Regions from separate parts of the Homo sapiens genome. Here region 1 is linked to region 2. The links come from fine-mapping of genetic effects on gene expression. A gene starts in region 2. The other region holds a variant in brackets. All regions are shown on one strand. Distances are between the middles of the regions. Region 1 overlaps LPCAT1 (lysophosphatidylcholine acyltransferase 1). Region 2 holds the start of LPCAT1 (lysophosphatidylcholine acyltransferase 1).

Region 1 (5,000 bases), 28 kb after region 2:
GATGTCTGTGTATGTGTGTGAATGTGTGCATGTGTGGGAGTATGCACGGATGCTTGTGGGCACTCAAGCTGCCCGTGCTGCCTGGCATTGAATCCCACCCCTGGAGCCCCTGGCGTCTCCTTCAGCAGCACTGATGAAAGCTCCCTTGGTGCACAGTCCTGGGCTTGGCTTGGTGCTTGAAGGGAAACAGAAGAGAGAACAAACCCTGAATTCTGAACTCCCCAAGGGGAAACCTAGTCACAAAAGCACCGTAGTTAGGGACGTAAGGGATCAGGAGGAAACTGAATTTGAAGTAGCAGATTCAGAGTGTACCGCTGAATAATAATTACGTAGTCGGTTTGGGACTTAAGTTGGCTCACGTTATGCACTGCTCTGCAGTTTTGAATAGATTGATGTTGAGTTAAAGCATTTTTGCTGAATGTAAGTTAGTGTCATTCAAACCTTCCTAAAATAAAAATCTTAGGCTTTCAGTGAAAGAATGACACAGTTTCGCAAAAGGCACTATTTTAGGTTACTTTCAACACACACAGTGTTGTAAAAACCGTAGCATCGTTTTGCAAAACCCGACCATCTGGCGCTGAATCCTTGACCACGGGCCAAGTCCTGAGCTGGGCCAGGTCCTCCAGGGGCTGCCCCTTGGCTGACCGGATGGTTCAGATGGATGGTGCCCTTTCCTGAATGCTCTGTGTGGGAACACCTGTTCCCAAGTTTGGGGATGCCATCCCCATGATGACTCTAGGTACTCCCCGTATGTTGGCCTGGAGGTTGGAGCTTGAACTTGAGCATCAAACCACTTTATCTGGTCTCCCAGAAGCCAGCAGCTCCTGCCACCTGCGTCTCAGCCTGGGGCTGCCCCTCCACACCTGCCAGCCCAACACAGCCCTCCCACCAGCCACCCAGGGGCCGTCCCTGACCCAGCTAAGCCAGTCCACGTGGATCACCAGACTTGCCTCCTTGAAGCCCCGCCAGACGTGGCCCCAGGGCCCCTTCCTTTGCCCTACCCCACCGGCCTGGCACCGTAGCCAGCACTCAGGCTGTGTACATGTGTATAGGTCCTCTCCAGGGCCGGCTCCACTCTGCCTCTTGCCTCTGCTCACAGCAGAACATTTGGAACCTGCAGAGCCGGGGCCTGCGCCTGCCCCTCACGCTTAGACGTGTGGGCTTCCCCCACCCACCTCCACATGCCAGCTGGCTTGAGGAGATGCAGGCCTCAGCGGCCTTCCTCCTTTTCCCCCTGCATGTTCTGGGAGATTTCCTCCTCCTCATTTCCCAGTCTTTCCTGTGAGTTGCTTGTCTCCACAGTGACAGTCTTGGTTTCTGAGAGTGTTTTCTTGTTCTTTGATGCTCCTCAGCGCCCTGTTCTTCCAGACTCTCTTGGCGAGCGTGGTGGATGTTTTGCACCCCTCTTCTGATGCCCACCCTTTCTGTCTCCTTGGGGTCAGTCCTCTGCTTCTCTGCCATGCAGCTGCTCTGCTCACACGTCTCAGGATTCTTGGGTGTCGTCCGTGTGAGGGCGGTAGGACGGAGTGGATTTCCTGGGGGTGCTGATGGAGATCCCCGCTCCTGTGTATGCAGATAGATCTGTCTCCTGATTCACATTCCCCTGGGAATGGGCTGCCCAGGCACCTGAGCACCCTGGGCTTGTGCTGGCTCCCTTTGCCTTGGGGTGAGTGGGTGCTGGGTCCCCAACCCCACAGCAAGCGGAGCTTTTCTCTGAGGCTGTCATCCACACCAGCAGTCCGGGTTTTCACATGTGGATAGTTTGGGTATAAAATTCCTCCAAGATCTTTAGAGAAGAGCTGAGGCTGCTTTTTCCCTGCCCCGACACCCAGTACAGTTCCCCTGAGCACCGTCTGTCCCTGCAATTCGATTTCGGGGCTGGCAGGTGTGTTCCTCTAAGGGCCGCCCGGGTTTTAATCCCTTTTTTCCTGCTGTCCTCTCTCCTGCCCCTGAACCTGCCCGAGACTGGCTCCTGTGCCCGCCGCAGCCTCCTCTGCAGCCTC[G/A]CTTCTCCCTCCGCCGCTGCCTTGTTTCTTCCATCTTAGGCATCAATTGCTGTCTTTTGGCTTTTGTTTTTGTACTTTTTTTTTTTTTTTGTGGAAAATAACATGTGCACAGAAGAGTACATCTTTATTTTTTAGTTTAGTTTTCTTGAGATGGAGTCTCACTCTGTTGCCCAGGCTGGAGTGCAGTGGCGCAATCTCGGCTCACTGCAACCTCCGCCCCTTGGGTTCAAGCAGTTCTCCTGCCTCAGCCTCCTGAGTGGCTGGGATTACAGACGCCTGCCACCATGCCCAGCTAATTTTTGTATTTTTAGTAGAGACAGGGTTTCACCATGTTGGCCAGGCTGGTCTTGAGCTCCTGACCTCAAGTGATCCACCTGCCTTGGCCTCCCAAAGTGCTGTGATTACAGGCGTGAGCCACCATGCCTGGCCAGAAAAGTACATTTTTAAATATGCAGCTGAACAGGTGGTGAAGAAGTGCACACCTGTGTAATCCCCCCTCCTCTAGACAAGCAGCACCCTGGGTTGGTCCCCAGCATCTCCATGTGTAACTACACCATTGTTTATCATCGCATACACAAAGGCCATTCCAAGGTGGCCCCACGAGAGGAGGCTTTGTGCCCTCCTAGCAACCGCCTTGGCTCAGATCCATGGGGACCCCTGTCCTGGAAGTCTTCTGGGAGGATCATCTGTCCCAGGGCAATGTGAATCCAGTAAGGCTTCAGGCTCTTGTTTCTCTGTGCAGTAGTTTTACCCAGTGTGATGCGCCCACTTAACCCAGTGGCCGAGTGAGCCGTGGCTTCTCATGAGGCTGAATCATGTTCTCTGTGTGCCTGACCTGTGGCTTCTCACACACCGTGGCTGTCTGCTGCGTGTCAATTCCCTGAGGTGTGGAATAACAGCCTAATCTGTAGCCTCATATGAAAGAGAATACACACATTTAAAAGGCTAAATTTGTACCTATTTTAAAAAGAGATAAAGAGTACACAAATTCAGTTAACCTAGGCTGATTTTTACTTTATTTTCCAAATTTATTGGCCATCTAATTTCCTCCAGAAACAGCTCACTGTAATAACACAACGCCTGGTTGTGGGAACCCCGGGCTTCCTGTGGAGATGAGATGGGGAAGTTCGCACGCAGGTCTCAGCTTCCGCCCTCAGCTCTGAGCGCCCCCCCCCCCATATTGCGATATGCGTTTTAGGTGTTTTAATGTTTTTCCCATTTCAAAATGATAGGATGCTGATAAATAAGTTGCTAACATGAAGGTCCGGAGGTCTTCTGGCCTGGGACTTGTGCTGTCTGTGTTCCGGAGTCTCATGTTGTCTTAGCACTGCCTGCCGCGTGGCCCGTGACCACCACACAGGGCCCCGCGGCCTCCTTCGTAGGTGAGAGCGCAGCCAGCGAGGACACAGGCGGAGGCCAGGAAGGCGCGGCGTCTTTTCTTCCCTCAAGCAGATGTCCCAGCGGCGGCGACCACAGGAAGCCCGTGGCCTGGACTGCGCCCTGGAGGGCTCTCCCGTGGGACCGCCCCTGTGCCTCACACAGACTCCGAGACTGCGGACGTGTGCCCGCGTGACGCAGCGCCCTCTTTTGCAGGGTTGTGGACTTCCTGCTGAAGGCCATCATGCGCACCATGTGGTTCGCCGGCGGCTTCCACCGGGTGGCCGTGAAGGGGCGGCAGGCGCTGCCCACCGAGGCGGCCATCCTCACGCTCGCGCCTCACTCGTCCTACTTCGACGCCATCCCTGTGACCATGACGATGTCCTCCATCGTGATGAAGGCAGAGAGCAGAGACATCCCGATCTGGGGAAGTGAGTGAGACACCCCTGCTGGGAGTGAGGGACCCTGCCCTGCTGGGAGTGAGAGATCCCCCTGCTGCTGAGAATAAGAGATTCCCCTCCTGCTGGGAGTGAGGGTCCCCCCTCTGTTGGGAATGAGTGAGACCCCCTCTGTTGCTGGCAATGAGGGACTCCCTGCTGGTTTTTAGGGACCCCCCCTTCTGGGAATGAGAGATCCCTCCCTGCTAGGAATGAGGGACCCCCACTTGCTGGAAATGAGTGAGACCCTCCCTACCGGGAGTGAGGGACCCCCCCCCCACCACGCTGCTGGGAGTGATCGAGCCCCCACCGCCGGGCACATTGGCCTTGTGCCCCATTTTCTGTGTTGGGGTTTCCTGTGTAATTTTCGTTGTTGTAATTGTTATTTTTATTGCTACCTGAGTGCCCTCACTATCATAACAGGCTACAGTGCTTGCTCCAGGTCTGCTTGGCAAGGGTGGCTCACCTTTATCAGATGGCAGTTCTGGAAGTCTTTGGGAGCAGGTCGGCAGGGCTGCCCATGCACCGCGGCTGTGCCGTGAACCAGGGACCTGAGCACCTGGTGCTGCCATGACCCCTCCCCAAAGCCGGGGGCTCACTCCAGCAGAGATTCACCCTCTCGTCATCTGGGGACCAGATGTTCAAAATCAAGGCGTCTCTGGGCCGAAGGCCCTGTGCGGCCCCTTCCTGCCTCTTCCTCCTCTGGGGGCTGCGTCCCTCTGACTCTGCCTCAGTGGTCGACTGGCCTGGCTCCCTCCAAGTGTCTCCTCTATGAGTCTCTTATAAGGACCAGTCATTGGGTGATCCAGGATGCTCTCATCTTGAGATCCTTAACGAGTTACCTCTGTAAAAACCTTTTTCCAAATAAGGCCTCATTCACAGGTTCCAGGGTCAGCATGTGGACCCATCTTTGGGGGCCGCATCCCATGGACCCACTGCTCTGGGAGGACTGTAGGGAGCCCTGCGTGGCCCCTCACCCACCTGTGCGCAGCCCTGACCCACCAGAGCTCTGTCCTCGGTGCTCTTCAGGGCATCTGGGCCCGTTCTGTCCTCGTGCTTCCTTCACAGCCGCCATCAGCACAGCACAGCACGTTCTGGGGCACAGCGGGTCCTGGGTTGGCAGTGGGCGGTGCTGAGGGAAGGAGCTGCTGGGACGAGGGGCGTCGCCTATGGCCGGGGCCCT
Region 2 (5,468 bases):
TGGCTGGCCTTCCCAGTTCTCTCCTGGCCAGTCCTCCTGGATGGGGCAGTTCCGTGGACTCAGCCCCTCTGGGGACCTCCGCTCCTTGGCCGCTCTCTGGGGCCTTCTTGGGTTCTGCTTGGTGAGGACGAGTGTGCCCCAGTCCTGCCCCCTGCTCTGCACAGCCCTTGGCCCTGTCACACCCACCCTCCCAGCTGTGCCCCCTTGTGTACTGACCCCGGAGCTGGGCCTCTGCGCCTCCTCCACATGGTGCCTGTGACCCAAGGATCCACTGAGCTTCTACACCAAGGCCACGCTGCCCACAGTGGCTCCACCTAAGACCCCTCTGGGAGAGGGACTCCTCTTTCCACCGACCTTGGCTCAAGGACAACCTGCTGACCCTGCTTAGATTGCCGGGCAGTATGAGGTTCTTCCCCCAGCCTCCCCACCTCCTTCCCTGGGTTCCAACTCACTTTGCACTCTGCAGGTTAAAGCAGAAGGAATTTATTCTCTCCCAGTCTGGAGGCCAGAAGCCTGCGATCATGGCACCCTAGGCCTAGGCTCCCTCTGAGAGCACTAGAGAGGACCTGCTCCAGGCCTCTCCAGCTCCTGGGAACTGCTTGCCTGTAGCAGCAGAACCCTGGCCTTCCCATGGAGCTCTCTCTGTGTCTGTCTCTGAGACCGAATCTCCCTCTCTATAGGGACACAAGCCATTTCAGACTAGGGCCCACCCTAATGACTTCCTCTTAACCTGATCATCTGCAAAGACCCTGTTTCCAAATAAGGTCGCGGCCACAGGTGCTGTGGGTTAGGACTTTTGCATCTTCTGGGGACACAGCCATGACTCTCTGGCAGCTCTCCCCATTGAATCTGGCTCTGCACCATCTCCAGCAGGTTTCCCCTCCGCCACACACCGCTTCCTGGCCTGTGCTTCTGGGAGGACCCCACTTTCATGGCTCTCCAAGTCCAGTCCTGAGGCTGCTCTCATCCCAGGACTGGGACACCCTAGGGCCCCTCCTCTCCAGAGCACTCAGGCAGCAGGTGGGGCCGCCTGGATCGCTGGGGTGCAGGTGCTGCCCTGTGGCTGGCAGGCTTTGTGTCCTGGGCTTTCTTGATGATCAGTTCGGTGAGGAGCCTTGGGTGGCCTCGGGTGCTGGGCTCTGGTTTTGGGGATCAGAGCAAGTGGCCACTAAAAGCCCAGGAGGTGGGTGCAACGCTGGTGGCTGGGCCACAGAGCCACCAATGCCCACCAGCACACAGGGCTCACCCCATCCCCGTGGGTGTGGCACTTGGGACAGGTGCTGCTGCTAGGCATGGGCTGGGACTCTTATGGGGCAGGAATATGGGCTGGGACTCTTATGGGGCAGGAATAAGGCCATGCAGCGGGTCTGGCCTGCCGGGGCCTTCTCTGTGCATGATATGTGGATGGCACAGACCCCTGGCCCTCACCCCGGTCTCAGACACAGAAGGGTCTCTGCCAGCCCGCTGCACTATGAGGTCCACAAGGGCGCAGGCAGGGTCATTGGAGGGGTCGGGGCACTCCCTGGCGTCTGCTGAGGATGGGGCCCAGCTGGGGCCAACACAGCAGTGACATCCCCAGGAGCCAGGACCCTGGGGGGTTGGCCAGGTGGCCCAAACCGGCTCTGTCTGGGTGAGGTCCGTTGGCCATGAAGGAACCAACAGGGCCAGCCGGGGTGAGGAAGCCGTGAGCACTGTGACCGAAGGCCTGCGTGAGTTCTGAAATCCAAGCGTGTTCACCCGGAGGCAGGAGCCCATCCTACTCTCGCTCCGGCTAATTATGGGCCCCACCCTGGGGCTCCTCACACGGCTCCTGAGCACCACAAGGGCAATGCCCGAGCCAAAGCAGCTACGGGTGAGAAAGCGCTGGGATCTCATCGCAGCCCCTGCACAACCAGCACGGACAGTCAGGGCCCCTATGTGCGCCTCCTGCCTGGGCCATCCCTGCGGGGCCTGAGGCCTGAGAGGTCCTGAGATCGGAGGGGTCCTGAGGTCTGAGGGGGTCCTGAGGCTTGAGGGGTCCTGAGATCTGAGGGGATCCCGAGGTCTGGGGGGTCCTAAGGTCGAGTGGACCTCAGGCGGGAGTCGCCTGGGCTGAGGCGCGGCTGGAAGAAGCTCCCTCAGCCCGGGGCAGCTTCCAGGGTCGCCGGTGCGAGCTAGGAGCCCAACGAATAAGAAGAATGGCGTGGGGCCTTCGCCGGAACAGCCCGGGGCTCGGCACCCAGGGCCTGGCCCGCCTTGCGCGTAAGCTGGACGCGTGCCCGCCCCTTCCTCCCTCCCCGCGAGCAGGCGGGCCGAGCGGCGGAAGGGGACGACGTGGCAGCCTCGCGGGCCCGGGGGACCTCCCTTTCTCCTGGCGCAGACCCTGCCGGGGATCCCTGTGCTCCAGTGGCTGCAGGAGGCGCCCCCGGTCCCCAGCGGCCCCGGCCCCCCACAGACCCCAGAGAAACCACCAGGTAGCGGAACTCCGGCTGGTGCCGCCCCTGCCGGCCGGCGGGAGGCGAGGCTTCCAGGGACGCCCCGCCCCGGCCGGCGCTCCCGCTCCGCCCACGTCACCTCCCGCGCCTGCGCGCCCGGCCCGCTCCAGCCGCCGCGCATCCTCGGCCCGCGCCCCGAGACCCGCGCCCAGCTAGCCCCGGCCCCGCTCGGCGCCCCAGGCAGCTCGGCTGCGCTCGCCGCGGGACGGCGCGGCCATGAGGCTGCGGGGATGCGGACCCCGGGCCGCCCCTGCCTCCAGCGCAGGGGCCAGCGACGCTCGGCTGCTGGCGCCCCCGGGGCGGAACCCCTTCGTGCACGAGCTGCGCCTCAGCGCCCTGCAGAAGGCCCAGGTGGGTGCCCAGGGCGCGCGGCCCCGGGAGCCGGCGCGGACGCCAGGGATGCTGGGGCCAGGGAGGCGCGGCCGAGGAGGGGCCGGGGAGGGGGCCTGGGGCGCGGCGCGGCCCTGCGAGCCGCGGCGCCTTCCCTCCCCGCGGCCGCCCCTCAGTTCGCGTCCCCGCCGCCCGCACCCGATGCCTCGGTCTCGGCGCCGGCTTCCCGCCGCCCGCACGCGCATCCTGGTCCCTCAGCGCCTTCCTCGGGGTCCCCGCTTCCCATCCCCGCCCCGCGTTCTGCTCCTCCCCCCAGACCCCTGCACCCTGAACCGGGCCCACAACCCTTTCTCTGCCTCCCAGAGCCCCGACCTCGGCTCCCGCGGGAGGCTGGACCCGCATCGCCGGTCCCCGCGCTCGTCCCTGGTCCGGGCCCCGCCCGCCTTGGCAGGCCCTGCGCGCAGCCCGGGGACTCCGGAGCGGCTTTGCCTGGACGCGGCCCGCGGGCGGGAGGGCACCGCGGCTCTGGGTGAGCCTCGTGTGCGGGGCCTGGTGGTGCCCGGGACAGGGCGCGCGGGCGGTGCGGGTCCCCTGTAGGGTCCCCTGTAGGCGCACGGGTCTCCCTGCTCTGCGGCCGCACGTTGCCTTCTGGGGTGCATGCTTCGCTCCTGTTGTAAGGGATGCTTTCTCGGGGCTGGTCTGACCCGAATCAACTTTATGCAACCTGGGCTGCCACGTGGGAGGGAACGGTTTGCTGAGATCCTGCGATGGGACAGTGGTGAGGGGAGACCCGGGGGCGTCGTGGGGAGGGGGCCGCTCGCTGCAGGAAGCTGCACCGGGGATGTGCTGGCTCAGCCTGGCTTTTCCGGCTACCTGGCTGCCAGCTGGGCTTACAGTTACCTGAGATCCACTCTCAAGAGGACCTTACTTTTGACTCTAGAATAATTCCTAGAAGCAAGCACTGTTTCGGGGCCTATGGGGCTGTCCGGTTTGTAGGGAGCACGCTTCCAATTGTGAGAATAGATTTCCGGGAAGATGGAGATTTGTTAATGCATAAAGTACTTTATCTGAAAGAACCCTGAAGTGAAAAGTTCTTGAGGCCAGTTTGAGCTTGTCATTTTCCCAGGACGCCTGCTTTTGCTCAAAGCCCCTTGATGCGGCTGGTCCTCAGGGTATGGAAGGGGACGGGGAGCAGGAGAGCCCGATGGTGCCGCCCCTCCTGGTGACACACAGGGTGAGGTCGTCCCCAGCCTGGCTCCCAGGCCCTGGCCCCCGTCTCCCTGTGTGTCGGGAGCTGGACTCTGGGGCTGGGGCGGTGCCGGCCCCTCTGCCGCCGCTCTGCCTGGCCCTCTGTCTGCCACACGCTGTCAGCTGCCGTGTGCTGTGCCCCTCAAAGGAGGACTTGGGACACGGTCGCTCATTCTGTGCCCCTCAACCATTCCTCCTCTTCAATCCTCACCCCCACCCAGCCACCAGGCTCTCTCCCTGGTCACTCTCCCTGAGTCACTCCCAGCAGGCTTTCTTCCTCCTGCACTCTGCTGCTCGGAAGCCCTCAGCGGGGACGCCCCCGGATGAAATTCGAACCCCTGCTGTGGTTTCCAGGGCTTCCCCAGCCCTGCTCCTGCCCCAGCTATGGCTGCCTCAGGCATGCTCTCTCTTCCTGCCTTTCCTACTCCCTCCTGGCTCCCTGGGGGGAAACATCAAGCCCCTCCCTGGAGGTCCCCGGAGGCCACTTCGTCATCCCTGTCATAGTTGCAGCCCCCGGTTGAGGTGTGTTCTGTCCAAAAGTGTGCACCCACTGCCCTGGCGAGAAGCAGGGCAGAGACTCTCATGGGTAGGTACAGATGTCAGGGCACTGCCAGAGTGCCCAGAGGGGCCTGCTTTCCTCCCCGAGACCTCAGGGTGCAAGCTGCTCCCAGTGGCTCTTGGGCAGGGGGTCATCGAGAGGCTCCTGGTCCCGAGATTGAAGGCTTTGGGCAGCTGTTCTCCCTTGGGCCGAAGCCAGGCAGAGATCCTGGCTTGAGGTGTTGGGGCCTCTCAGAGAGGGGGCTTGCTTTGTTGCCACTTCAGAGGTTCCATCTGAGGAATTAGGTGTGTTTGTACATCCAGTCGTTTCTGCTGGATGTCTGCAATGTGTGGCTCAAGGGTTTAGTTTGTAAACGTTCTCAAAGTTCTCTGCAGAAACATTTTGCTTTTCACCAAGCATTGCTTTGCAAAGCTTTTACTTTGATGTGATATATTCTTGTAAAGTTTCCACAGAGTGAAATAGCCTGTCTTTCAAGCCAAGAAAGCCTTCTTCCCCAAAGAAAGAAATGGGTCCAGTAGTGGCTGACACACTCAAGAACCCGCAGAAACCCAGCTAAGTTCCCAGTTGAGATAAACCAGTGAGTACCTGCATTTACCTGTGAGCATTTGCCGCCTGGGAGGGGCTGCTGTGTGTCTTCGGATTAGCGCCATGCGGGGACACCTCCTCCTCCAGCCAGCCCATCTGTCATTTAACTACAGATTTAGTGAGGAGCTTAAGTATCTCTTTGGACAGAAAACAGCACATTAAGATCTGAAAAGAGGTATCAAAGCCATCAGGGTCTGTAATACGTGCAATGTTTTAATCCTCTGGCTAAAGCAAGGATATAGATTTAGTAGAGAGCGGTAAATGGTATGGTA

What was found.
Region 1: its variant is fine-mapped to the expression of LPCAT1 in whole blood (TOPMed, PIP above 0.99).

The regions. Positions count from the first base shown.
Region 1 is chr5:1,493,511-1,498,510 of GRCh38, reverse strand. It overlaps LPCAT1 (lysophosphatidylcholine acyltransferase 1), which reads left to right. Exons shown (of 14, transcript NM_024830.5): 3 at 3,597-3,811. LOC124901162 (a long non-coding RNA gene) reads right to left here. Exons shown (of 2, transcript XR_007059103.1): 2 at 2,992-5,000. Among named protein-coding and RNA genes, the nearest start is that of MIR6075, 15 kb to the left of the region's middle. RefSeq lists an enhancer at 3,375-4,574. The variant G/A (reference allele first, on the strand shown) is at 2,004.
Region 2 is chr5:1,521,067-1,526,534 of GRCh38, reverse strand. LPCAT1 (lysophosphatidylcholine acyltransferase 1) reads left to right here and starts at 2,575. Exons shown (of 14, transcript NM_024830.5): 1 at 2,575-2,825. The coding sequence starts at 2,691. RefSeq lists a cis regulatory region at 1,183-1,418, silencers at 2,188-2,587, 2,608-2,917, 3,188-3,387 and an enhancer at 4,548-5,052.